4 linked regions of the Homo sapiens genome follow. The protein of the gene in region 3 purifies or fractionates together with the protein of the main gene of each other region. This does not show direct contact. Each region holds a gene or a part of one and is shown on either strand. Other genes may lie near its edges.

Region 1 (7,264 bases), on a different chromosome or scaffold from region 3:
ACCATGATGCCACTCTGTATATTACTTTTCTCTAGCACTTACTGGCAAATCCTTTTCCATCATTAACGGCCTCCTAACTGGAAACTCTAAGACCAACCTTCCCCAGCAACCTCAGGATCCTTCTGTAATGTACGCCAGATCAAGATCCTCAGGGCTTCCAGTCTCAAAGAAAAGCCGTCCAGCTCCTCATCTCTGAGTCCACCTCATCCGATCCCCATCTTGCTCTCTCTGCTACCCCCAACTCGCCTCCCTGCTGTCTGTTTCCTCTCCCCAAAGCTCCATCAACCCACGGCAACTCCCTTACCTCCTCTAGCTCTTTGCTCACTGGGCACCTCCAAGTGAGGCCCCCTCCAATTTGGACAGCTGACATGCACCTGCCCTGACCACACACTCGGGCTCCCATCACTGCTCTGCTCTCATCACCCCACACACTGCAGCATAACCCTCATTGCCTGACTCTGTCACCAGAGCATGAGCTTCCTGAGGGCAGGAGTCTTCCCTCTTCTATCATTGCTGCACCCCACCCTGGAACAGCCCTGGCAAGTGGCTGACACTCAATCTACACTTACTTGTTGGAATAAATCATGTCTAGGTTTTTCTAAAATCTGGGATTGTTTTACAACATGAAAGGCATTAACAACGCATAGTCAGATTTATGGATCCAATAATTATAAACCTTCCATAGTTCATTATTTTTTAACTATAAAATGAAAACATTTATCTTATTTTTAAACCCCTAGTCTCATAGCTCAAAAACCATTTACTCACAAACCGTAAGTTTTCTCTGGCTTAGGAATGGGATCATCAAAGAAAGAATCTCCTTCCATATCATCTTCATCTGGACAAAGGCCAGCTTTGTCTTTGCCATCTAAAGTTCTGTTGCTTAGAAAAGATCCAATTTTTGTTTCATGGGACAGTAAGTGAAGGCTGCTTTTGCTCTTGGGTTCTGACAAGGAGACACTTGTATCACTCTGATTGGCCTCATCATTGGCCTTCTAGAAAGAGAGGGAAAGAGAAAAGGCCTCCTTGGTGAGATAAAACTTTAAGATATTTTCAATAATAAAAGAAGTCTCATGAGCATAATCAAACCTGTGTGTGTGCAACCTTTGTGTGTGTGTGTGTGTGTGTGTGTGTGTGTGTGTGTTGGGGCAGCTCTCAGCAGCGTGAACTGCAGAGCAATGCCACAATTCATCACTCCATCCCCAGGATTCCTAACATGGCAAACTTTCAAAGGGGGAAAAATATTAGAGAAATATATTAATACCATTCCTTTCCTCTTTCCCTAAATGGAAATACCTTTAGTATACCTATCCCATTTATAAACACTTTCCCATTGAGAAACAATTTCCCATCTCCTCTTCCATATGTCATTGCTTCATAAGTTATCTTAAATTAATACATTTTCAACTTGAAATCAGGAGAGATCATTATTATTAAAGGAGAAAAGAAAGATTATTTCATATGAATGAACCAAGCATTAAAGTAGTCATCAGTAAAAATAGCAATTTTCTATCCAGTGCTAAACACAACAGGCATCAAGGTGAAAGGCGCTGCCTTCAACCACTCATATTTCTAACATAAACCTTTGCTAATCAAAGTAATTATCTCAATTCTAACTTCCAGGGTAACTTCCTAACCTATACCTCATTTTGATGTCCATGGACATATATACGTGTGTGTGTGTGTGTATTTCTCTATGTATATTAACATCAATGTTATAAAAAAATTCTGAATCATCCTTATCCATGCCCTTGGATACAGAGTGATGTTACCACTTTTCTTTTTTGTTTTCAGGGAGTCCTAACCTTCACAGCCGACTTTCACTCCATTCTTGGTCAGATTTCTTTCTGCCCTTAGACGGGTCTATGTTAATAATAATAATGAAAACAAAAAATAATGCTAGTAATAATAAAAGCAGCTGACATTTATGGAGAACATTCAAATGCTTCACCTTATCTCACTGAATCTTGAAAATGGCCCTAGGATCTGGAGATGGCTTTCTATCTGTGGATATAAATCAGGAAACACAGAGACAGACATTGATGTCACTTGTCAAAGTCTCCAGAGAGTTAAGTGGTCAGGTCAATATCAAAGTCAAAGCCTGCTTCCAGAGGTTAACTCAATATTTATGCTATTAAGCTAAATTATAATGAATTTGTGGGCTTTATGGGTTAAAAATGGCAATTTCCCAAAATTCAGCCTTGCATACTAAAGAGAGCAGTATTGTGTAAAATACCCGTGGAATAATAGAAAAAGCACTCAACTGAAACAAGGAATCTGGAATGTAGTCCAAAATTATTAACTCCATTTTTTTTTCTTTTTTTTTTTTTTCTTTTTTAAGAAACAGGCTCTCACTATGTCATCCAGGCTGGTCTTAAAACTCCTGGGCTCAAGCAGTCCTCCTTGCCTCAGTCTCCCAAGTAGCTGGGTTTATGGGATTACAAGCACAAACTACACCCAGTCGTATAATCTTTTTTTTTTTTTTTTTTTTTTTTGAGACAGAGTCTCGCTCTGTCACTCAGGCTGGAGTGCAGTGGGGCAATCTGGGCTAACTGCAACCTCCGCCTCCCAGATTCAAGCGATTCTCCTGCCTCAGCCTCCTGAGTAGCTGGGATTTCAGGCGCGTGCCACCACGCTTGGCTAATTTTTGTATTTTTAGTAGAAACAGGGTTTCAACATGTTGGCCACGCTGGTCTCGAACTTCTGACCTCAAGTGATCCACCCGCCTCGGCCTCCCAAAGTGCTGGGATTACAGGCGTGAGCCGTGAGCCACCATACATGGCCCGTGTAATCTTAAGTAAATTAATTTCCTAGGCATGAGTTTCCTCAAGAATTGAACTAGATTCATATTTTTCAGATCAAATTATATCTAGGAAGGGATGGATGGCTGAGAAAGAATTAAAGAGTAGTAACTACTGAAGCATGGTGACCAAAGTCTGGGTTAGACATTACCGAACAAGACGCTCCTGAAGGATGGTTTCACTTTTCATATGGGTACAGACAGAATGCATTATGCATGTCTTATGATATACGTTTACATCTTTACACCAGGTAGAGGTCTTGACTAGTTGACAGTAGGCAAGATATATGCTGTGCAAATTTTATTGCCTTCTAGAGAGCTACACATTCCATGTTATTAATATAAATTAATGATTATAAAGAGATGTCTGAAAAAATAAATAGCAAGTTATAATTTTAGACAACATATTTTCAAAGGGATGGAAACTTTCAAAAATTTCCTAACAACTTTCTTGACATTTTCCTGGTATTATCAAATATAGAAAAATATTATGTAATTCACAGCAGTTGTAATTTCTGATTTTTACACTGTTTTAATAATGGATTTATGTCTTTTTAAAAGAATATGCATTTGGAAATAAATACCCTGATGTGATATTTAAACATATGTACAATGACACAGCCTGTGGCCACGACAGATTCTCTCCTTCTAAACACTCATGAGAAAGTGCCAAAGAATAACTGGCATGACAGAAACTGAAAAATGTAAATGTAAAGCAATATTATGAGAAACAATAATTATTCTGATTTCCCCAAGAATTCACACTGCCAATGTAACTTAAATCCACATAATGAACTATCTAGTATCAAAGCTGAGCAACTAGTAGGTATCCATGATTATTTGACAGGTTTGACCAATATTCCCGCTATAGACAGAAAGACCAGTTTTAGGAAGACAAGTTTTACGGAGAAGGGCATTACTATATTACACAACACATACTTGTAAACATAACAGAATTATTTTAAAAATATAGTTCTCTTAATCCAGGGAGTAAAAATAAATTCTGAAACAATCTGCTTTGGAACTGCTCTCAAAATCTAGTTCTAAACCACACAGTAACATGTTACTACTTTATAACTATGGCTCATTTTTGCCAAAAGACCATTACCAACTAGGTTATTAATGAATTCACTAAACTTAATTCCAAATAAACTTCACTATTAAAAAAATCTACAGGAAGAGGAGAAAGATTTGTCATCAACACATTTTGCAGATTAAAACCAAAGCACTGAAAACGCTGAGAGCAGTTTCAGTGGCTCCTCCATGTACACAGCAGGTGTACCCGTGTGCACAGCAGGTGTACGCGTGTGCACAGCAGGTGTATGTGTGTGCACAGCAGGTGTATGCGTGTGCACAGCAGGTGTATGCATGTGCACAGATGCTCAACCCACAACAGCGCTTCACCTCATCAACCGTCAAGTGAAAATATCACAAAGTGGAAAACGGGCACTTCATAAACATGAGGTGCAAAAACACAATATCCAAAAAATGCTGGCTATTCAGTCCCCTGGCATCAGAGTGCCTCGTGACCATGTGGCTGACTGGAAGCCGTGGCTCAACGTCACTGCCTGGCCCCGAGAGAGAATCGTACCACCGATTACTGTCCTGGGAAAAGATCAAAACTCAACGTATGCTATCTACTTAATCTATATCACTTTTGTACCATCATAAAGTCAAAAAAGCATAAATCAAACTGTTGTAACATTGGGGACCATCTGTATACGTATGTATACCCGGGAATCTGCTTTAAAAACCCTTATCATGAGTTAAGACGAACTTATGTTACGTACATAAACTTCAGTTACTTGGGTTTTGTATCACCTGGATTTGGCTAAGTTGAAGATTCAAAATGAAGCTAAATAACTAAGGTTAAGTATTGTTTAAAAACTAACAAATAAGATTTAAAAAATATAAGGCCAGGCACAGTGGCTCACACCTGTAATCCCAGCACTTTGGGAGGCCGAGGCAGGCGGATCATGAGGTCAGGAGATCCGAAACCATCCTGGCCAACATAGTGGAACCCCGTCTCTACTAAAAATACAAAAATTAGCTGGGTGTGGTGGCACGTGCCTGTAATCCCAGCTACTCAGGAGGCTGGGGCAGGAGAATCGCTTGAACCAGGAAGTTGGAGGTTGCAGTGAGCTGTAATCGCCGCCACTGCACTCCAGCCTGGTGACAGAGCGAGAATCCGTCTCAAAAAAAAATACACACACACACACATACCATGGCAATGCCTTAGAATTCATTCTCTGGACAAGCACAAAAGTTATGGGTCAAACTGTATCCCACAAATGAAATATGTTGAAACCCCTAACTCCCAGTACTTCAGAGTGTGACCTTATTTGGAAACAGTGTCCACTGCAGATGTATTTAGTTAAGATGAGTCCATTCAAAGAGTAGGGTGGGCCTGGGTCCTAACCTAATGAGTGGTATCCTTGCTGGGGGGAAGAGACACAGAGAAACACAGGGAGAAGTCCATGTGAAGATGGAGGCAAAGACTGGAGTAATCCATCTACAAGCCAAACAGCATCTGGGTCTAGCAGCCACCAGAAGCTAGAACAGGAGCCACAGCCCTCCGCGAACCTTGATTTCACATTTTTAAGCCTCTAGAACTGTGACACAACACATGTGTTGTTTTAAGCCACCCAATATTGGTACTTATATTACATTAGCCCTAGGAAACAAATCAAGTCATTTATAACAAAAAACTAAAACAAGTTTTGTCTTTTCATAAAAGTGAGGGACCTATTGCACAGCACTACAACGGTCATTAAGTTCTCTTGGCTGGAGCTCAAGACTAATAATAAGCTCTATGGGAAATTATAGTGCAGCCATAAGAAAGCTTTAGTATATATTTAAATTATCCAATAGTACACTCATATAATAAAGAAGCCAATCATTTCTAGATTAACAAAAAGTCAGCACTAGAGAAGTTTCACAATGAGAAACCTTAATTTTTCAGTAGTCAAAAACTGAATTGTATCAGACTGACTTAAGAACCTGAAAAAAAAAAAAAAGAATTTTTTTCCAAACTGTTCATGTAGGAAAAATATCAAAGAAATACTATTGTTTTGCAAAAGTATTCAAAAAATTCATGCAATACAGTTGTCCCTCAGTACCCAGGACACCTGCAGACACCAAAGTCCGAGGATGCTCAAGTCCCTCGTATAAAATGCTGTAGTATTTGCACATAGCCTACACACATCCTCCCATATGCTTTGAATCATCTCTAGATTACTTGTAATACCTAATAAATGTAATGCTATGTAGACAGTTGTATACCATTATTTTAAAATTTGTATCATTATTGGCCAGGCGCGGTGGCTCACACCTGTAATCCCAGCACTTTGGGAGCCCAAGGCAGGTGGATCACGAGGTCAGGAGATCAAGACCATCCTAGCTAACACAGTGAAACCCCGTCTCTACTAAAAATACAAAAAATTAGCCGGGCTTGGTGGTGGGCGCCTGTAATCCCAGCTACTCAGGAGGCTGAGGCAGGAGCCTCCCGTGAACCCGGGAGGCGGAGCTTGCAGTGAGCCGAGATCGTGCCACTGCACTCCAGCCTGGGCGACAGAGAGAGACTCCATCTCAAAAAAATAAAAAAAAAAAAAAATAAATAAATAATAAATAAAATTTGTATTATTATTTTTTATAACCATTTTTCCATTTACATACGACTGAATCTGCAGGTGTGAAAGCAATGCATATGAAACCTCCAGATATGAGGCTGACTGTATTTAAAATTCTCTTCACCCATGCCTCTGCCCCCCACCTCTCTCCCTGCCAACGACAGTTTCTGATCCATGACTTACTAATGAATTATTTAGAGAAGTAATTTTACTACAGGGCTAAGTGTGGGAACATTCATGCATCCATGTATCCATTCATTCAGGATGGTGTGAGAGTGTGACAGGGAATGGTAACGCCTGGTTTGGAAAATCCTCAGGTGACTGCCAAAGATACAAAAACATATGCCCCAAAACCTACACGTAATGTGAAAAAGCATCTCAATACATGTTAGTTTTAAAATACCTGAAAACTGGGCCAGGCACGGTGGCTCATGCCTGTAATCCCAGCACTTTGGGAGGCCGAGGCAGGAGGATCACTTGAGCCCCACAGTTGAGGATCAGAATGGACAACCATAGTGAGACCCCTGCCTCTACATGAAAACATTTTTTAAAAAATTAGCCAGCTGTGCTGGCATGCACCTGTTGTCCTAGCTACCCAAGAGGCTGAAGTGGGCACTTGACCCCAGGAGGACAAGTGGTGTGAGCCATGATCACACCACTGCACTCCAGCCTAGGTGACAGAGTGAGACCTTGTCTCTAAAAAGAAACAGACACCTGAAAACTATTTGTAAGAAGAAAGGATGATCTTTCATATTACATTTAATATAATGATAAAGAGCAACTAATTCTAAATATTAAAAACAAAAAAATATAGATCTTACTCAACATTTCCAAC
Region 2 (7,264 bases), on a different chromosome or scaffold from region 3:
AAACAGGTCTGAGCTACTCCTTTTCAACCCAGTAAGGCTCAGCAATGTCGTATCTTTCAGGTTACCAGCATCAGGGGACGTGAGCTCAGCTAACAAGTTTTGGCAACACTGTCCTCTGCTGAATATTCCCATTGGCATCTGTCATCTGCGCCAAATTAGTCCTCAGTTTGGAAGCTGAGCTAGAAGGTGGAGGTAACTTGGATATAGATGTGATAGCACCGGTGCTCTCAGTTATCCTTTTCACTGACGTTTTCTCCCCGGTGGGAGGCTTTGGCAACCGCCTCCTCAGCCAGGGGTGCCGCAAAGCCTGGCCTGGGGTCATGCGCACTGCAGGATCCCACTCTAAACACTGTTTTAAGAAGTCAAGGAAAAGGGGATCATCACACCCCTTCAGCGCGTTCCCCCACTCTCTGCTCTCCGGTGGGCCCCTCAGTTTCCCCCTCCGGGAACGGCCTCCGTTTAGGACCACAGAGCCATCTGAGAGAGTCGTGACAGTGCAGTAACGGGGATAACCCTTGGAGCTCACAAAATTTTTGGCTCGTTTGGATGCATCCAGCAGTTTCTGTGAGGGCATGCCCAACAGTTCAATCATACAGGCCAGCTGGTCCCCTTCATCTTCCCCAGGCAAGAGGGGGTAACCCGTCAGGAGCTCTGCTAAAATGCAGCCCAGGCTCCACATATCAATGGGCATGCCATACCTGGCCCCAAGGATCACTTCTGGAGCCCGGTAAAAACGCGACTGGATGTACGTGTAGACACGCTGATGCTCGTAACAACTGGAGCCAAAATCAATTACTTTAATACCGCTTCTACCCTGCTGCTTTAACAAAATGTTCTCGGGCTTAAGGTCACAGTGAATTATTCTGTTTTTGTGCAAAGCATCCAAGCACTGCAGAATCGAGTGGGCAAACTTGCGAACCAAAGGCAGACTGAAGCCCTGGAATTTATTCTTCTTGATGAGCTCATAGAGGTTCATGCTCAGCAGCTCAAACGTCATGCAGATGTGGTTGCGGAAGGTGAAATTCTCCAGCATATGGATGACATTCATTGTGTTATCCTTGTCCTGCTTCCGCAGGTGTTCCAGGATTCGGATCTCCTCCGCTGCTTGCCGGTGGAAGCGCTTCTCATTCCGCACCATCTTTAGGGCCACGTGCTGGTGGACTTTGTGATCGTAGGCCTTGACCACCTGCCCAAAGCTCCCCTTCCCAATGACCTTGAGGACCTCATACCTGTAAGCCACGTGATCGTGGGGCACCTGCACATATGATCCCTGGTCATCATCATAGCCACCATTGTTGGGCCCACCTGTCATGCCCTGGCGCTTCTTAGCATTTAGACCCAAGAAATATATTTCAGGGTAGCTGAAAATCTCATGGTGTTCGAAGGCTGTGAGTTTTTGCATGTATTGCTTCATTGCTTGTTCAGGTGTCATGGGGGTGGCTTTCACCTTCCCCATGCCTTCCATGGACTTTAGAGAGGTGGAGCTCCCCTGCCGTCTATGAATGCTGTCCAGCTGCCGCTCTGGCACCACTGGCAAGCCCGTTTTGCCCACTGTTGTAAGCCCATTTGGTTGTGTCGTGAGCACTGTCCGCTTGTTACTGTTATCCTCAAACAACTGTTGAACCTGGATCTGTCCGTGAGCGTGGCTGCCGACATGCAGGTGATCATTCATTGTGTGCTTACTGCCGCCAATCTGGAATTCAGACAGGAAATATAAATAGAAAAGAAGTGGTGTCTGTTCAAATGGTGTATAAGTAACCCCCAACAACACCACCGCCCCCAACCTCACATTTACAAAATCCCATTTGGTTTGAGTAAAAGCCACAAAACATGTGATCCTGAAAAATGGACCTCATAAATGCCATGCCTAACAGACAAGATGGTTTGCTGTACATATTCAGGGTTCCCCACGGAGACAGAGACCTTAACTTTATCATTCTATATCTAACACTTAGTATAGGGCCTGGCACATCATAGGTGTTCCACTCAATCCACATTTGATACAAAAATGAAACAGGATACAGAAAAAAACATGCACACATAAGACTCTATGTTGGCTCCTCCACCCCCAGATCACAGCACCTTTCATATTTCATCTAGTAGTTTATTAACATGAAGACAGGGACCATGTCTGTCTTGTTCACTACTCTTTCCCTAATACCTAGAGCTCTATCCTGAAAACACTTCATCACCAGTATTTCCCCTTTCCTTGAAAATCTGATGAAACCTAAGTGCACACATGATCCAGTGACAAAAACAAAAACCCTGTGTTTTTAGACTTGAAAGATTCCCATGTAGATGTGTACCATAGTATCTTATGGACCCCTGACCTATTTTTAAAAGTTTCCAGGCTTTACTAACTGTAATAACCATTTAAGGCATTCAGCCCAACAAACCAAGCAACGACCACACTGTTTGGCCTTCCTCCGGAGGGGTCAGTGGCTCAGCTCTCTGAAGATGTCCATTTCTACAAGCTGCTGGGATACTCAGATTTCCAAATAGGAATCCAAAGAAGCAACCTCTGTTTCAGGTATGCATGCCATCCCTGAACATTCCTGTCTAAATTCTATCAATGGTGTGAACCAAGGGACCCCAGCCCTCTACTGAGAATCTTCTTGGGATTTCCTTTAAGCATTATGGCTGCTGAGAGGTAAGGGGTAGGAGAGGACTGGCAGCCAGGATCCTCTCCCAGTTAGGAATTCCTGCCTTGGACAACCCCTAGTCTTAAAGCAGCCTGGCAGGTGATTTCTGTATGAAATCTTACACCACCTTGTCATCACAATCCACCTCATTCAGTCAACTGGTATTAACAGGAGGCTGGCTGCCAAAGTGACAGAGTCCCTGCCCTCCAGGAACTTACAATTAACTAGATGAAGTCCACTGCCATCAGTATTTTTTCTACTATCCCCTTTTAAATCCTACCTTTGGGGCTTTACATACTACTGAAAGAGCAGAAGGGCTCTGTATATGTAACACAGTAATTCAAAACATGATTTGGGAACACCTGGATTACAAAATGAAATTCCAACTCCTTCTTACTAGCAGACCAAGACGTTCACATTTTCTTTATTGGATACATAATATGCACAATGACTATGTGGAGTGTGAGCTTCCTCTCTGCCCACTTCTAACTAAAACAAAACAGAAGACAATACTTGGGGCCTGTCTGACTGTGACTTCATAGGCTCAGGGATATCATTTCTTAGACTTATAACTGAGCTTTTTTATCACACTCATAGATGATACTCCATGCTAGGTGACCTTATATTCAATAAGAGTAGCTAGAAAGGTTATTTTACCCTTGTTCTATGCCAAAAGCAGGGCAGTCCATAAAAATGAATCAGGCAAGTCTTGGGCATATATAAAAGAGGTACAGGCTTGTCCAATGCTTCTCTTCCCCAGCCTCGCTCTCTGCACCCTCTCCTGTCCACTGTGGTCTTTCAAACACCAGACAATAAAGGGGCCTGAATCAAAATATCTCTCTCCTATAGAATCATTTTCTTTAGAGTGGAGTGGTGATATTTCAGCAGAAAAATTCACATTACCTGTATACATGCTATAAAAAGCATAAAGCTCTTCATTAGGACAAAATTAACCTTGGGGCTTTAGAGATTTCTAAAAACACAGCAAAGTAAAACCAAGCCTCAGAAATTTACTTCAAGCAATTTTTGTGTTTCGCATAATTTAATACATGATCACAAATGTTTTAGTAACTAAAACTAACGAGACTGACAAGAAACGACCATCTTCTATATCTCCAACTGCCTTCTCTTGGTCTCCTTTGCAGCATCAACTACTACCTAACCTTAGGTGGATTCAAGAGTTCCCCAGGGTTCAAATCTCGATTCTCTTGGCTTCTTACTCCCATAACCCCCTGCAACTGATCCTGAACACAGCCAGGGCTTCAGCAACTGCCCATGGCCTGATGTTTGCGCATTTGTTCCCTGAGCTCAGACCTTCCAAGGTGCTATCTCCTGAGTGGAAGACACACATATCCAACTATCGATCAGCTCCCTCTCCCATAAGCAACTCAAACTTAACTCATGATTTTTCTAACAAACCAGTTTCCCACTTCCATAATCCTCCATTTTTGATAAAAAGAAGGCTTCCCCTCCATGTGTCACTCAGGCTATCCACCTGCGAATGAATCCTCAGCACTGTGTGCCTGGAAAATCTCAACACCTCCCTCACCTTCCCAAGTCACCAAGAAGATGCATCATTACTATCCCAGGCCCTTTCCATCAACACTGCCTCATCTCACTCTCCTGATGTCTTTCACTGGGACAACTGAGGCAGCATCGTAACATGCCCCCTTGCTTCTAAGTCTAGAATTCCTCAAATCTCTTCTCCATAGTGCTTCTAGAGTCTGATTTAAAAGTCTCAACCTGAGACCACTCTTGCTTTTGCCCAAGGCCTGTGGCTGTAACCTATTTCCATAGCTAATGCAAGAACTTACCAGTAAGAACACAAGGCTCTAAAATGTAGAGGCTAAATGATCGGAGTCCTTCCATTCTCATCAACTACTGTCACTCTTCTCTCCAAGAGAACAAAGCTAGATAGCCCAGGACCCAAAAAACACCACACACTTTTACACTCCTCTGCTTTTAGTGAGGTCAGGTTTCATAATGGTAGATTTTCAGTTAGACACACATTAAATGATCCAGCTCCACCATTTACTAAATGTGTGACCCAGGGCAACTTATTTCATCTCTGTTAACCTCAGTGCCCTTGTCTGCAAAAAGAAGGTAACAAAGTTACCTCATTAGGGCTTTTAGGGGGATTAAATAAGGTAATATGTGTAAAGTGCTTAGTAGTCAGTCAATGAGAGCATTATTATTGTCCTTTCCAGATATTTCTTGTAATCTCCTTTCTCATACCTAGGTGATTCACCCTTTTACTTATTTCTCTTTATTGCAATTGTTTTAACATCAGATGTACTCATCTGGCTGTGAGCAATTCCAGGGCTGGGTCCCCTCTTATGTTTCCAAGTCCTCATTAACATAAACCCAGGCATATAGTAAGCCCTCAATAAATATCTTTGGGATGGAAGAACACATGCCAATAGATCCTCCTTGTTAACTCTTGCCTCTCTTGGAGTTGTTCCTGAGAACTACATTGTGTACCTTCATAAGGAAACATGAAGTCAAGGCCCAGGGAATTAAGAAACGTCCCTGGTGACCTAAGTCACAAGACGTTAGGCTTGCAGTGGATCCGCACAGACTTGGAGGCCAAGGACCTCCAAGCATAAAGTACCTGTAGCAGACACATCAATCAAACCATGTATAAAACACTTGCAACAAACACATCAACCAAACACCTAAAAGCAACACATGCAATCTTAAAAGCTTTCCAGATGTTAGAGATTCATTTGAGAAGCTCTAGCAAAAGAAGACTTTGAATCTCAAACATTGCAGGACTCTAAAATCACAATCAAGCTCAAAAGCACAATTAACTGACTTATAAAAAATGGGGCAGAGAGCAGGGTGGGGGTGCTGAGGGACTAGAAATGCCAGAACATTTCCAGAATACGTATGTCAAGACTACATCATAAACTTAAGGATACTAAAAACCTCTCCCTCCAGCTCAGCCTCTTGAAGTCTGAGATCATGGCTTATTCCGATATGCCAATGTATAGCACAGTGTGTGTCACATTTAAAAATACATACTGAGGCCGGGCACAGGGGCTCAATCCTGTAATCCCAGCACTTTGGGAGGCTGAGGCAGGTGGATCATTTGAGGTCAGGAGTTCATAACCAACCTGGCCAACATGGTGAAACCCCATCTCTACTAAAAATACAAAAATTAGCCAGGCATGGTGGCGGGTGCCTGTAATCCCAGCTACTTGGGTGGCTAAGGCAAGAGAATCGCTTGAACCCCGGAGGCGGAGGTTGCAGTGAGCCGAGATGGAGCCACTGCACTCCAGCCTGGGCAACAGAGTGAGACTCCGTCTCAAAAAAACAAAACAAAACAAAACAAAAAATAAAAACATAATACAATTGTTAAAATAGCTACAATTTATGGGTTCGAATTGAGAGACCTGCAAAGGCTTCTTTGATCATCAAGTACTTTGGTATTAAATATTATATAAAAACAATAGTCTAACCAGTTTGGTAGTTTTCATTTCTTCCAATAAGAAAATGGCAAACAGCAGATATTCCACTGTGATAATAGTCTTGGGCGTTTAAAAACTTTTCTGAAGTCATCTTAGAAATGCTGTATAGTATTATGGTAATAGAATTGAGTCCAAAAAGACTGGAATTTTAGCTCCTCCTCAAACATTCTGACAGTCTGTGTGGCCCTGTCAGAAAGAAAAATGTCTACTTTTTCTTCTTCAAAATACTGCCATTTTTTAAAATGTGTATTTCAATTTGAATTATTTTATAAAGGTAAAACTGATAACTGGAGTGTTTTACATAGTAAAACAGTTACAAAAGTTATACATATTTTAATATTTTTGAATTTAAAAATACTTCTATTAATAACTACCAATTAACATTAATAGAAAAATAATAGGAAGTAAGACAGTGATTGGGCACACTTCTCTCTCTCACACAAACAGAAATAACTAAAGTGTAAAACAACTTATACATGGAGATATAAAACAAAAGGGCAATGGTCTAGATAAATTCCAAAGTTTATAATCTTTATAATCATATATTTAACCTGCCTACTATATCACCTGTAAGAGAAAATGTGGGCAAGCTCCTATGACAAGATCATTTTTATCTCCTTAATGCCCTCCCGCCCCCCATTCATTCTAGAAGTTCTTCCTAGGTGTAATTACTCTGGAAATAATAACTAAAAATTTATAAAAATCTGACAGACATATGGGAATATGGATCTACAAAGGTTCTTGCATTTATAATGAGGCTAGTACAATTTCCTAGAATTAGCAGTCTCCATCAGTATATTAAAACTAGATGCAGGAGGATGTAGGCTTTCACTCTGGCCTTGATATGAACTGGCTGGGGAATCTTGATGAAACCAGTTACCTTGTCTGAGTCTGTTTCCTCATCTATAAATTGAAAGAATAGAACCAGATAAACTCTGTGGTCCTTGTAACCTTTCCTGTACTATGAAATCTGCTATGTTATAGAAATAAAATCAAAACTAAACCACCATCGAAACCCAAATTCACACCTTCAAAGTCAAGCATCTAATAATTAACAGCATACCGAAGTTTACACACACGTTAAAAACAAGTAAATCTGGCATATGCCACAGCAAAATACAGGCCTCCATTATGAGGAGTACTGAGAAGCAC
Region 3 (7,683 bases):
CCTTTTTGAAAGATCACTTGAACCAAAGTAGGCAGATGAACTGAGAAAAACCAAGCTCAACGGCAGCAAAACTAGCTAGGAGCGTCTGCAATAGTCCAGGCAAAATGTAATTAAGGATGGACAAGCAATATGTAGGAGGTTAAAATCTACAACCTAGACCCACTAGATGCAAGAGATAAAGAAGGTTCAGTGAAGAATATCTGACGAGAATGGTCTGTAATACATTTTTCTTACATTCAGTGCAAAATATTAGGCAAGATCTAGTAGGCTAGCCTTGACTCTGAGGTCCCTCCCATCTTTAATTTATTTTGGTTCCTGGTTTTTTTATTTTTTGTAGGGGGAGGGTCATGGACAGGGTCTTGCTCTGTCACCCAGGCTGGAGTACAGTGGCAAAATCATGGCTCACTGCAGCCTCAACCTCCCGGGCTCAAGAGATCCACCAAGCCCAGCTAATATTTTTTACTTTTTGTAGAGACAGGAGTCTCACTATGTTGCCCAGGCCAGTCACAAACTCCTGGCCTCCCAAAGTGTTAGGATTACCAGTGTGAGCCACCGCACCTGGCCTGGTTCCTGATATTATTTTGGTTAACTAAAGTCCATTCAGAGGTACAGAACAGTTCCTGCACCTGAATGAGATGTAGAGAATAATCTGACTTATTTTCAGAAGCAGATGTGTTGAACTGTCCTTGCAGAAGAGATGGTGCTAACCCCAGAGCCTAGAAAAGGGCCGGGCACACGACAAGTGGTCAGGTTGTTTTTAAATACATCAATAATCATTTCCTCTCCCAGATCGCACACCCTCCCTCTTTCTCTCAGCTTATAAACATGTTCACGTCCATATCCACTTAAAAAACACCTTTCAGACCTACAATTATCTGGATCTTCTTTGTGGGTAATCTAGGTCCCTCCCATGCCTTCAAATACCTGTCCTCCCACAAAGCCTAAATCTTGGGCCCAGATCTGCCTAGCAGACACATTTGGATGCCCCACAGGCCCCTCTTAAAACATTAAAGACAAACTGAGATCCTCCTCCCACCCCCAATCTCATTCGAGTTAACTCGGCTGTGTCATGGAAAGACGCTGCTGTGTTTCACTTACAGACGCTGCTGTAAACTGTCACCCATACTTGCTGCCCCCCTCTTCTAACTAGTCACCACGCCCATCCATTCTCTTAGATATCTGAAATCCTACCCTTCTTTTTTTTTTTTTTTGAGACAGAGTTTTGCTCTTGTTGCCCAGGCTGGAGTGCAACGGTGCAATCTCAGCTCACTGCGACCTCCACCTTCTGGGTTCAAGCAACTCTCGTGCCTCAGCCTCCCAAGTAGCTGGGATTACAGGTGCCCGCCACCACGCCCGGCTAATTTTTTTTTTTTTTTTTTTTGTATTTTTAGTACAGATGGGGTTTCACCATGTTGGTGAGCCTGGTCTCGAACTCCTGACCTCAGGTGATCCACACCCCCCCGCCTTGGCCTCCCAAAGTGCTGGGATTACAGGCATAAGCCACGGTGCCCGGCCCCAGCCCTTCTTTTCTATACCTTAGTTTGGGCCATTAGATTACAATTCACCATCCTTCCAATTTTAATTTGTCTTCCATATGGAGGCTAGACTGAGCTCCTACGGAAATTCCATCTCATCATCCTACAGCGGTTTCCCAAAACCTTCAGGATAAACATCCAACTCTATGACAGGACAAACGAGGACCCTCCCTGTTTGGCCCCCACAAGGTTTCCAGCCTCAACTCTCTCTGCTCTTTCTCAAACCTAAATTCCAGTCCTGTAACTCAGCTTGCATACTCTCTCCTATTTCCAAAACTTTTGCACAAACTGTTCCTTCCTGTTACCTAGCTAGCGTCTATAGGAAGCTGCCTCCATTATGTAGAAAATGCTAAGTGCTCAAAGGAATAACAGCATTTTGTCATATATCATAGTTGACCTAACATATTTTCCGAATAATCAGAGAGTCTGGATCCCTAATTATACCACTATACATTTACAAATGGCTTGTATTTGTAAAGCACTTTACAAACTTCTTATATACACCTTAAAAAATGAAGACAGGCCGGGCGCGGTGGCTCATGCCTGTAATCCCAGCACTTTGGAAGGCCGAAGCGGGCGGATCACCTGAGGTCAGGAGTTCGAGACCAGCCTGGCTAACATGGTGAAACCCCATCTCTACTAAAAATACAAAAATTAGCCGGGCATGGTGGCGCGCGCCTGTAATCCCAGCTACTCGGGAGGTTGAGGCAGGAGAATCACTTGAACCCGGGAGGCGGAGGTTGCAGTGAGCCGAGATCTTGCCACTGCATTCCAGCCTGGGCGACAGAGTGAAACAGTGTCTCAAAAAAAAAAAAAAAAAAAAAAAAAAAAAGACAAAGGCTGACATGTATTAATTTCCTACCTGCTTAGTTCTCTATCAGGCAAATCAAAGTCATTCAATAAAATAGGTAACATCTGTCAAATGTTTAATGATGTCCCAAACTGTGCTAAGAGCTCTGCAGGCATCAGCAGCGCAGGGAATCCTTGCGAAGGCGCACATAACCTGGGTCTCGTTATTAAGCCCATGTTACGGATGAGCACACTGAAGCCCTAGAGACCTTAAGCCACTCACCTAGCTCGTGAGTGTCCAGGCCGCACACCCCTTCTATTGCACACATACCCCGACAATGGACACCACTCACCTAAAAACCCACTTCGCCGCACCGACTGAGGGGCCCTGGAGGCGGGAACTACAAACCTGTGTCCCCCAGCCAGGGCTGGAAGAAGCTCTTGATGGAGACCAAGGGCAGGTCTTTATTGATCTTGAGGGTGCTCAGCAGAGGCGCCCAGTCCACCCCGCGGAGGCGGTCGGCGTTGAAATCCAGCACGCCCTCCCGGAGACAGGCGCGCACGGCGGGCAGCGGCACCGAGTTCTGCAGCGCGCACAGGTACTCGTAGTGGGAGAAGAAGTCCGCCGCGCTGTCGCGGCGCAGCTTCACGGAGTCGATCATGGCCCGAGGGCGGCCTCGGGGGATGCCCGCCGCGGAGACGCCGCCCGCGCCCACCCAAGAACGCTGAGTCGCAACCCGGCCGCTCCGGCACCCACGGCCAGGCGATAGCGGCAGCCCCGCACCGGGCTCAGGAGCGGTGATTCGGTCGGAAGACGCAAGGCCAGAGCCCCAAGCTAGGCCGGCCCCTCAACGCCCCACTCCCGCGCTGCCTCCCGCCCTGCGGCCCAAGCAGTTGGCGCCCGCCTCATAGTCCTCTGAGGCGCCGGGATTCAAGCCGGTGGGCGGTGCCGTGGAACGGTGCGCCAAGACGTCAACGTGCTCGCTGTGCGTCGGCACGCAGGTCCCGCCTCCTGAGGACGGGTGAGTTCGCTGCTACCTGAGATAGTGGTCGGGAGAGTTTGAGGGTTTGCGAAAGAGTTTACTGATCGATCCGAATAAAAGTGAAATGTGTGGTCGGGCGCGGTGGCCCACGCCTGTAATCCCAGCACTGTGTGAGGCGGGGGCGAGCGGATCACCTGGGGTCAGGAGTTCGAGACCAGCCTGGCCAACATGGCGAAACCCCGTCTCAATTAAAAATACAAACATTAGCCGGGCATGGTGGCGGGCGCCTGTAATCCCAGCTACTCGCCTGTAATCCCAGCTGAGGAAGGAAAATCGCTAGAACCCGGGAGGCGGAGGCTGCAGTGAGCCGAGATCTTGCCATTGCACTCCAGCCTGGGCGACAAGAGCGAAACTCCGTCTCAAAAAAAGAAAGAAAATAAAAAGTGAAATGTGGATGTAACAACGCACTTTTAAAAAAAGTCTAAACATCTGAGGAATGTGTCTGTGCTTGCAGTGTCCAGCCAGCACAGAGACTGCACTCAAGGGATGTGGGAACGGCTGATTGAACGTGAACTGCGGTCATTAAATCTTTTATGTCTGTGTTAATATCTACAAATAAGCCTTAATTTCTGTAGTTTCTGCATATCTCACACGGTTCCTGGCAAATTGAAGAGTGTTTCATGAATTCAGGACTTTATTGTGTTTGCTGTGAATCAGTTTGTTTTGTACTGACGATGATGTTGGCTAACTCCCTTGTAACTAGTACTTATTTGAAATAATGTCCTCGGGATTATTTTAAGCAATGTTTAAGTATGAAATCATTTCATTCTCCTAACATCTCAAGGAATATACTATTATATTCTACTTTACAAAAGGGGAAACTGAGGAACGGGGAAGTTAAGTGGAAGCTAAGTGGAAGAATCCAGATAATTGACCTCTCCTTCTATTGGTATGCAATTGCTAGAGCAATGATAGTCCTCCGGTAGAGCCTTAGACATTGTGTTTATTGCATTCCTGTTCCACCCACTGCATTCCGGATACTCCAACTTACTTCCAACACACATATGCAGGCGTCTCTAAAATTCCGGAGATATGGTCACCAATTATTTTTATGTGCGACATGCTCAAATCTTAATATAGTAAACGCTTGTATATTCATAAACCAGCTTAATAAATGAAACATTACCATTCCTGTTGAAGAGCTTTGTGTAACCACCTTCCCAATCACGACTACTCTCTGACTCTGAGATAACTGCTCTTCTGAACTTGGTATTCATCGTTGCAATGTATGTCTTTATATTTCTGCTACATATGTAAGTAAGCAGTATATAACATTCTATATTTTCTTTTCCTACTTTACTTATCGTTACCTTTACTAGGTCCATCCGTGTTGACATATAGAGATATTCATTTATTTTCCCTGTTGTTATATGGGAGTTCCATGTAGAAACATACAGTAATGTGTCTGTTTTTCTGTTGATGGTAATTTAAATTGTTTCCAACTTTACGATTTCTTTGTTGCTCTATCCATTTTCTTTCTAGTCTCCAGCATCAATTAATGTAGTGTCCATTACCTTTTTAAAGCTCCCTCCTCCCTGTTTCCCATGAAGCCACCTGATTTCTTTTTCTTTACCTCTCGAATTTCTTCTTCTCAGTCTCATTCTTTGGCTTCTCTTGCATATCCACTCTAAATATTGCTGTTCGTCAGGTTTCTACCCTCAGCTTTCACCCCTTCTGACATTTTACAGTTTCTCTGGGTGTTCTTGTCTTCTGCTCAGCCTTAACTTCCCCACTCTAGGCAGATTACTTCTAACACAGATAGATCTCTTCATCCATTAAATTGCCCCCTAGAAAGCCAAGATTTCTCACTGCCCTCAGTGTCAGATCTATGTCACGTAGCTTGACATACAAGCTCCTTCATAATTTGACTATCTCTGTTGTCTCTCTCCTTGCTACATTCTTCCTGGCATGTCTTCTCTAGATACACAGAACTGCTTGAACTTTCTGATGTCCTATTGTTGCTGTCTGGGTCTTTTCATAGGCTGCTCCTTTATTTAGTCGGCTAACTTCCATTCTTTTCCCAGCCTTGGTTTGGGGCACCTTCCCTAGAAAGCCTGTTTCTCTCTAACCCTCATCTCTCCTCCCTTGCTTGTTTAGCACCTCACTGCTGTGCTCCCTGACATCCCTGTAGCATAACACTTAGAACATCCAATGATAAACATCTTTTTAGATGGTTTTCCTTCCAGAGTCTGAAAGCCCTTTGAAGGCAAGAACCATGTCTCATTCATGCTTACATTCCCTATGCCTAGCACAGTGTTAGCACAGAGAAAGTGCTAACTAATGACTAATTGTAGGAACATTCTTCCCTATTATCCCCGCAAGCTATTGCCAGCACCCTGTAGCCACTGCCTATGAATGCAGCTCAGAGAAGTCTTCCTCATATTAATAATCATTTAACATATTCATTTAAAATTTATGTTTCCTGTGCTTACTTATTTTTAGTGTGGCAAGATTTCTTTCAAGGCTTGCCTGATAATCTCTTCTCTGCTTCAGTTAAATTATGACTTAATAGTTGCTTCAAAAAAAGAATGGCTCCAGTTCTCCTTTCAGCATCTGGTGGGTTCACCCACACACTTCCCTGAACACTGAATGAAAACTGTCTCTCTGTGGCACCTCTGGGATCCTCTGACAAACCAGGCTCACACCTGGCCCAAGACAAAATGCCTTGGCTTCATTGCAGGTGCATGACTTGGGAGGGACGTTCTACTGGGTGGTATAAGAGATGAGCTCTCCTCCTTCAGGGGATCTGGTGAGTGAGTGTTTGAGTAGAATACAGGTAAATGGTATCATTTAAGCACTTGTTCACTGTACTCTACTCCCAGTCAATCCAGACTGTTATACCCCGACTTCCTAGCCCACTTACCTTTCCATAGAACCACAATGCCATATCATCTGCTTATCTCTAACATTCATCCTCTCTGTACTTGCTTCCAGAGCAGTGAGGTTTGATGGATCCAGGCACAGAGCAATGTCAACCTGGCCAACAACATAAGCTGTCTTATGTTAACGGATGTGTGGTCCCCATTTCTTTTTCCCATTACCTTCCTTGTGGCTACTCACAGTGGTTGTTCCAATTCCTTCTCCTTCTTTCTTTTCATGTTGCTGCTTGATATGGTTTGGCTGTGTCCCCACACTTTACCTAGAATTGTAATAATCCCCACATGTCAAGGGCAGAGCCAGGTGGAAATAATTGAATCATGGGGGTGGTTCCCCCCATACTGTTCTTGTGAAAGTGAATAAGTCTCACGAGACCTGATGGTTTTATAAATCGGAGTTCCCCTGCTCAAGCTCTCTTGCCTGCCGCATGTAAGACGTGCCTTTGCTTCTCCTTTGCCGTCTGCCATGATTGTGAGGCCTCCCCAGCCATGTGGAACTGTGAGTCCATTAAACCTCTTTCCTTTATAAATTATCTAGTCTCAAGTATGTCTTTATTAGCAGCATGAGAACAGACTAATACACCATAACACTTCATTCTACATCCCTGAACAGGACACCTCTTACTTCATCAGGGAAAACAGTTCCAAATGTAAACTTTCTTGTCTTCTTTCTTCTGACTTCAGCTGCCTTCCAATCCATGCTCCACACTGCAGCCGCCACCACCTCCTCTGCAAATCCTTCTATGACTTCCCTTTGCTCTCGGGATAAAGACAAACTTCACAATGGTCTCAAATAGTGCTCCACTCAATGTGGAGTCCACAGACTAGCTATTGATTTTAGAACTGTTACTGTTCTTATAAGATGAGGAGCTCAATTCAGAATGTAAATCACACATGCACTAAACATACTGCTTAGATTTTTTTCATGAAAAGAGCAGTGTATTGCGTTACATTCTAGAACAAGCTCCTTATCTCATTGTCCAGTGGCACTTTGAGTAGCACTAGTCTCCAGGGTGCTGCATCCTCAGGGCATGATGGAGTATGATCTCTGCAGCTTTGTCTTGTGTCCTAGTCTCTTTCATTCTCAGCAGTCCAGCCTATAGTAGTCTCCTTTCAGGCCTGCACACTTAGAATAAACCACTGTCCATGCTGTCCGCTCTGCATGAGATGTCCTTCCCTTCATTCTGCACCTAATTAGTGCCTCCGCATCTTCTCATCTCAGCTCATGTGTCACTTTGTTGAGGAAGCATTTCCTCCCTCCCTGACTCATCACATCCCCTATCATAAGCTCTCATAATACCACGTAACTCTTGTTGATAGCCTTCATTCTATTTCGCATTCATTTTGAAATAAATGTTTACCATATGGTCCTTGAGGAAGGGATCGTGTCTGTTTTGCTTATTCTGTTGTTTTTGTTTTGTTTTTATTTTTTCCGAGACG
Region 4 (7,264 bases), on a different chromosome or scaffold from region 3:
CTGCCACCAATCAAGATCCGCTATCAGAATTCTGTGTTCTCTGGGGTAACAACTACAGCCTAACAAAGATAAGGCTTTCGTCTTTGTGAAGCAGCGTTCCTAGGACAGGAAAGCTGCTACCTCTCAAATCACTATCTTCAGTACAGCTATCTTTGCCAAGCATTCAATTCTGCACATTTGACATTTCTACCATTTTTTTTCCCCCAGTTCTCACATGTTCAAAAGCAAGTTTGTCCATTATACTACTCTTAGGTTTTTCTCTTTAATTTTCCTATTAGTTACTCAGGATCAAGGTTTAAATATAAATGATGCCCCTGCTACTTAATCCCTCAACAAGGCCCTAAATTCTGTTTTTTATTTCAATGCTTCTCTCCCCTCCTTTTGGTCTTCACTGCCCTACTTTAGTAACTATTACCTCTACTGTAGATGCCTATCACTGTCTTTCTAAGTAATCTCTTAGACCTTTGTCTTTCCTCACTTTATGATCTGCCCAGAGTAACAAAGTTGTTTATCCTGAGGTAGAGACAGAACCAAATCCTTGGATTTTGACTTCAGGTATGAGGCACTTTTACTATATTACTGCTATTGCTCTGATGTTCAATATTTGAGCTGATACCTACTCCTGAAAAAGGTCACTTTATAACTGAATAGAAAGAACATAACAAATACATAGATATATATTTTATTTTAATTCAACAGACTAGGGGAGGCAGAAAAAAAGAAATGTGATTTGAGAAAAAAAGAGCAGCACTGGTAATCACACATACTTTCCCCCTCCTGAGTACAAAGTACATTCATAACCAATTATAGTCAAAATAACTTCCTAAGAGGAGAGGGGGAGGTCTTGGGGATAATGAGACAAAGATATAGACCAATAACTTCAAAAATAAAAAGGCTTTAGTATCAGATTCCTACGATATGAATGGATTTTTAAAAACAGCTTGGATGATAACTAGCCTATTCTGCCTCAACAATTTAAGTAATGCAAGCAAGTCATTTCTTTCTCCCTTCACAGTAAGATGAGGTCTTACATAATAGCAACTAAAAAGCTTTAACCTTCTAGGATACAAAGATTCTATCTAAACATGCAAGTATAGATACTCCTTGACTGAAGATGTGGTTATGTCCTGATAAACTCATCATAAACGCATAAAGTCTAAACGCATTTAATACCCCCAATAAACCCATCACAAAGTCAAAAAAAAAATGTAAGTTGGGGGTCGGGCGCTGTGGCTCACGCCTGTAATCCCAGCACTTTGGGAGGCCAGGGTGGGCAGATCACAAGGTCAGGAGATCAAGACCACCATGGCTAACACAGTGAAACCCCGTCTCTACTAAGAAAACAAAAAATTAGCCGGGCGTGGGTGGCAAGTGCCTGTAGTCCCAGCTACTCGGGAGGCTGGGGCAGGAGAATGGCATGAACCCAGGAGGCGGAGCTTGCAGTGAGCCGAGACGGCACCACTGCACTCCAGCCTGGGTAAGAGTGTGAGACTCCGTCTCAAAAAAACAAACAAACAAACAAACAAAAAATTGTAAGTTGAGGATCCATTTTAAGTTGGGGACGTTCTGTATATATGAAGAATTTCATACCGTCTGCCTTCAAGTGTTCGTAAGCTAGCTTCTTCTCGCGCAGTCATCCTCTCTCTTCTCGCTGAATTCTGAGAAGCGTGAAGAGGATGATTTGGATGTCCAGGATCACCAGCAGATGCTAATGCAGAACCATAACGTAATTGAGCTTCAGTAGAATCCATAATACTGACCATCCAGTTCCAAGTGGGAATAAGCTTTTCTTCTACATAGTTCTATGAAGACCAAACTAAAATAGTTAAAACTATCCAAATAGAGCTAAATTCGATACAGCAGCAGTATGTCAATATGTAAACGTTTCTAACATTTAATTCCCCTAATACTGGAATTCTCATAATTGACAGCCAAAAAAAAATAGTGGAATGGGAAACTTTTCAGTGGTTTCATACCTGTAAGTTTACTGCATCTTGGTAAGTCAATTTCACAGCTGCTGGAATCTGAGAGTATACTAGGTGATTATACTTAGGAATAAGGCCCATCAAGTCCGAGATTTGTCTAATGACAATGCTGTAAGCCCTGGCTAAACTGCTTGCAGATGTTAGGTAACTGCTGGCGTTGCTAGCTTCCAAAGCAGCTGCTGCAGCTGCAGCACTTGTACTGATGGTACCACTCCGGCGTAAGTTTGAAGGATCAATATAAATCAAACCCGCTGAACTTGCTATAAGGAAAAAGGACAACCACAATGAGCTAATGTCAGTTGCTAATTGTGTTTCTCTGGGATTATATATACTTACGTAAATCTAAATGGTCAATTGTGGTACCCAAGCAAAAAACTTTGCCTAAACCACACTATTTTGGGGAGAGGAGTATGGAGGGGACAAGAATTAATATAAAGTTCTCAACCAGGGGAAATCTGACCCCCACGCCACCTCCCCCCGCCAAAGGGGCTACACATTTGGCAGTATCTACAGACATTCTTGGTTATCACAACTGTGGGAGCCAAGGGGAGGGGAAGAAGGGTGAGAGGGGTTTCACTGGCATCTAGTGGGTGTAGGCTAGGGATGCTGCCTAACATCCCACAATGCACAAGACAGCCTCCCACAATTACCCAGTCCAAAGATGCAATAATGCAAAGACTGGGAAACCCTGCTATAATCATATGTACATATTTTTTATATTTGAAACTCAACAAAACAATGAGGAACTATCATAAAACTAATTTTATCCCCAGATGAACATGCATAATTTAAAAAATCTATCTAAGTATTCTTAGCAATACTAAGTTTTCAGACTTGCCTGCTGGTGTAGATGTACTGGAAGGGGCTGTACTGGCTGCTCGCTGATGCTGGGTGTTGCGGACAGCCCACTGCATTGAACGGGGAGCTTGGGCAGCACCATTGGCATGGGAGCTATTTGTGGTTCTTTCTAATGGCTCATCAAGCATAAAGGTCTCCTGTTCTATGTCGTCACTCTGACTACTACTGCTATCAGAATCACTTGAGTCATTCGATTGAGAATCATCTTCAGAAAAGAAGGCAGGAACACTGCTTGCTCCTAAAATTTTTATTTTTAAAACCAAAAACATTGTGAGTTTAATAATTAAAATTACAATGTACCCCCTCATTCAGGAAAACATACATATTAAACAGAATGCCAGATTGTATTCAATAATCCACAAAACCTACCATAAAATAGTTTTTATTAGAAAATAACTTTCAAGCCCAGCTCTGTGGCTCAGGCAGGACTGCAGTGGCACCATGTCGGCTCACTGCAGCCTCTGCCTCCTGGGTTCAAGCTATTTGTATGCCTCAGCCTCCTGAATAAGTAACTTTTAGCTGGGTGTGGTGGCACATGCCTATAATCCCAACAACTGAGGAGGCTGAGGTGGGAGGACTGCTTGAGCTCAGGAGCTCAAGACCAGCCTGGGCAACACAGTAAGATCCCAACTCTTTAAAAAAAAAAATTAGCCCGATGTGGTGGCTTGCACCTAGTAGACCCAGCTACTCAGGGGGCTGAGGTAGGAGCTCAGGAGGTCAAGGCTGCAAAGAGCTCTGACTGCACCACTGGAATATCCAGCCTGGTGACAGAATGAGACCCAATTTAAAAAAAAAAAAAAAAAAAAAAAAGGCAAGAAAATAAAAATCTTTTAAAGAAACTTTAAAATTCATTCATTATTTAATGACCAGAAAAGCTGGAGAAAGAGTTATTAAAATAATACTTTCTTTTCTAATACCCAGAGAACAAGGATGAAGTTATAAAAATGCTTAGCTACCCTTGCGTATATCACACAAAGTATGACCCAATCCACGCTGAATACACACACACAGCCTTAGCATAAGCAAGAAAGTAGTTGGGATAAGGCAACATACCTGCTTCTGAACCAGCAGTTGCTGCAGTGACAACGCTTCTGCGCCCACTAGCATTATCTTGGTTGCTGTGGTTACTTTCACTATCACTTTCTGTTTCAGCTGCTGCTAACAAGTCCAGCTCCATATCACTCCCTAAAAAATACATTTAAATAAGAAAAAAGCACAAACTCACTATGGTTTAAAACAGGGTCTGATAAGCCAGAATATCGTAAGGGTGGGAACTAAGAAGGCATAGGGGGTAGGAGTTGGGGAGAAGGGGAATGGTGTGAAAGAGAAGGGATAACTACTAAAATAAGACTAAGTAACTACTCAACCTTAGAAGAATGGCTAGGGAAATTATGGTAGTCAACAGACTAGTACATCAGGGCAGTGCAGGGGAGGACTGAAAGTAAATATACAAGCTATTAGCATCTGGGTGTAATTATGGGTGATTTATTTTCCTTTTCTCTAATTTCCAAATGTTTCATAATGCGACTATGATTATTTTAGTTTTTAAAAGTCTTTTAAGAAACTGACTTAAAAAGAAAAAAGGGAAACTATTTTATATATGTATTATATATAGCGCCTAAATTTTCTAAATAGATGCTACAGAAACCCTTGGCAAAAAATAAGTTTGACCATTTCACTATACATTCAAATGAGGTTTCTCTCTGTATTTAATATCTCCCTTTAAAAGTACCTGATTTACTCATACTGAGTAATTTCTCAAATAACCTGCATACCGTCTTCATCATGCTCATCATGTTGTCCCTCTGCCTCAGCATTTTCTTCCCCGTGTTCTTCCTGTTCATCATGATGATCCTCTTCTCCAGCCACACCCTCCACCACCTCAACCTAAATCCAGAATCTTATTTGTAGACAATCAAAGCTAGTTAACTAAAATGCGAAGACCACTAACTATAGAGAATTTGAAATCATATATCAAGCAGTTTTGAAAATCTTCATTTGTTAGTGACAATTTGCTATCAAAAATTATATCCTGGCCGGGCACGGTGGCTCACACCTGTAATTCCAACACTCTGGGAGGCCGAGACGGAGATGGGCGGATCACAAGGTCAAGAGATCAAGACCATCCTGGCCAACATGGTGAGACCCCGACTCTACTAAAAATACAAAAATTAGCTGGGCATGGTGCGTGCCTGTAGTCTCAGCTACTCAGGAGGCGGAGGCAGGAGAATTGCTTGAACCCGGGAGGTGGGGGTTGTAGTGAGGCAAGATTGCACCACTGCATTCCAGCCTGGCAACAGAGCAAGACTCCATCTCAAAAAAATAAAAAAATTATACCCACAGATCCCAAAGTTCATTACTGAGCATATACAGAACCCTCAAGTTAGAAGTATAAAAATTATACTAGGGGCAGGGAGGAGAGAATTTACCTCATAAATATGTAGTATCCTCTTTCAAATACATTGTACAAAACTACTAAATTTTTCTAACATTACGAATATCTTGGCTGGGCGCGGTGGCTCACACCTGTAATCCCAGCACTTAGGGAGGTTGAGGCAGGTGGATCACGAGGTCAGGAGTTCGAGACCAGCCTGACCAACATAGTGAAACCCCGTCTCTACTAAAAAATACAAAAATTAGATGGGTGTGGTGGTGCGCGCCTGTAATCCCAGCTACTCAGGAGGCTGTGGCAGGAGAATCGCTTGAACCCGGGAGGCAGAGGTTGCAGTGAGCCGAGATCACGCCACTGCACTCCAGCTTGGGTGACAGAGCGAGACTCTGTCTCCAAAAAAAAAAAAAAAAACCCAGAATATCTTTGCTGTTAACACTGAGAATATCTCCACCCTTAATCCTTAAAGACAAGTTTGTGTCCAATTTCCTAATATCCAGTAAGTCACAAATTATTAAAATAATTTTACTATGTATAACCACAAATGAGAATATATAATAAACATCTACAAACTGGATGCAAACGCATATAGTAGTCTCAAGCTACTATTAATGTAATTTCTACTGACTACTCTTCTTTTCTCATAAAATAAAAGCTTTTTAAATCTACCACAATTAAAATCACCTCTTCCACATCTGCTGAAACAATATCATCCTGTTCTTCATCTCTGCCCCGAACGGGCTGTGACTGGCTGATGCGCCTCTGCTGTGGATTCCTGATGATGTAGGATGACTGAGACTGACTGGAGCTGTAAAGAATCAGAAGCTTATGAGTGGGCTCCTGCCACAGCTCAGATATGCAACACATATTTTTATTTAACTCATTTATTACATGTGAGACACTTGCTAGGATGTGACTTTAAATCTGAGCTGAGAATTCTTAGAAACCAACAATACTTAATCTATATATCAGAAAATATAAATCTCAGAATATGTTTTTTCTTTTTAAGTCATTTCAAATCTGTGTTGATGCACATTATTTGTATGAGTCCATCCCATCGAAAAATTCTACAGGAAGATTTTTCCTCCTCCACCAGCAGTTCTATTTCTAAAAACTCTGGTAGCACCATCTGTCCATTAACAGCAAGTGTTTAATAGAAGTGATCTAACTTTTAAGAGATCTGACATGATTTCTATTTTGAATGAGCTTATTAACTAATGACTTGCTGATGTGTGTGGGGAAAACATCAGTTCAAAAGCATGATTTTAAAGTAGTCATAACCAAAGGCAAAGTGGCAAAAGTTTCACTTCCCTAAACACCTGATTTGGAGACAACCAAGAAAAGACAGTTGACTGGATTATAAAACAAAAAGGGGGAACCAGAAAATACAGCTTAAAATACAGGCCAGAAATCTGAAACTGGTGGCTAAATAACCCTGTCACCTATTATTTATAGATTATGAAACGGGGTAAAAGATGTTGAAGTCAAAAGACCTTTAAGTGATTGCACTGACAGGTTCTTTCCTATCTCAGTTGCTATGAGAAATGAGAATCAAACCAATTAGACCTGAGAGTTGACTGAAACACCATGCCTTCAAACAAACAGATAAGTAGTCTCAATATGATGTTTAACACTAGAACTATAAGTAACTGGTAAAACAGAGATCGTGGATTACAAAAGTGGGAAAGGCTAAGAGAAAATCTGTAGAGATGAAAAAGGGTATTTCCAACCACTAAAGAGATTTCAATATTAAAACATAAAAGCACTGTGTGAAGCCACAACTAATGAGTATTTCTTTTTTAAAACAAACATCCTAGAACAAACATCCACAAGAACTATAGGCCCCTCAAAGTGGTTACTTTAAGAAGTTATGCAGTTAGTATGTATAATACTGCCAAAACAGACTAGGTATAGTGGCTAATGCCTGTAATCCCAATGTTTTGGGAGGCTGAGGTGGGAGGATTGCTTGAGGACAGGAATTTAAGACCGACCTGGGCAACACAGCGAGACCCAAACGCTACAAAAAATTTAA

Evidence for each region.
Region 1: the proteins of CEP78 (region 3) and CEP43 purify together in Homo sapiens (affinity purification with mass spectrometry; 3 studies listed by BioGRID and IntAct, with this or other methods). This does not show direct contact.
Region 2: the proteins of CEP78 (region 3) and DYRK2 purify together in Homo sapiens (affinity purification with western blotting; 2 studies listed by BioGRID). This does not show direct contact.
Region 4: the proteins of CEP78 (region 3) and UBR5 purify together in Homo sapiens (affinity purification with western blotting; 3 studies listed by BioGRID, with this or other methods). This does not show direct contact.

What each region holds. Positions count from the first base shown.
Region 1 is NC_000006.12:167,016,140-167,023,403, reverse strand, and holds part of CEP43 (centrosomal protein 43), read right to left. Parts: intron 996-7,264; coding exon 769-995; intron 1-768. UniProt on the Homo sapiens protein: Required for anchoring microtubules to the centrosomes. Required for ciliation.
Region 2 is NC_000012.12:67,651,535-67,658,798, reverse strand, and holds part of DYRK2 (dual specificity tyrosine-phosphorylation-regulated kinase 2), read right to left. Parts: intron 1,694-7,264; coding exon 86-1,693; 3' UTR 1-85. UniProt on the Homo sapiens protein: Serine/threonine-protein kinase involved in the regulation of the mitotic cell cycle, cell proliferation, apoptosis, organization of the cytoskeleton and neurite outgrowth. Functions in part via its role in ubiquitin-dependent proteasomal protein degradation.
Region 3 is NC_000009.12:78,231,654-78,239,336, reverse strand, and holds the start of CEP78 (centrosomal protein of 78 kDa), read right to left. Parts: upstream 3,263-7,683; 5' UTR 2,987-3,262; coding exon 2,734-2,986; intron 1-2,733. UniProt on the Homo sapiens protein: Centriole wall protein that localizes to mature centrioles and regulates centriole and cilia biogenesis. Involved in centrosome duplication: required for efficient PLK4 centrosomal localization and PLK4-induced overduplication of centrioles.
Region 4 is NC_000008.11:102,283,537-102,290,800, forward strand, and holds part of UBR5 (E3 ubiquitin-protein ligase UBR5), read right to left. Parts: intron 6,041-7,264; coding exon 5,917-6,040; intron 4,731-5,916; coding exon 4,619-4,730; intron 4,029-4,618; coding exon 3,897-4,028; intron 3,082-3,896; coding exon 2,824-3,081; intron 2,246-2,823; coding exon 1,977-2,245; intron 1,803-1,976; coding exon 1,591-1,802; intron 1-1,590. UniProt on the Homo sapiens protein: E3 ubiquitin-protein ligase involved in different protein quality control pathways in the cytoplasm and nucleus. Mainly acts as a ubiquitin chain elongator that extends pre-ubiquitinated substrates.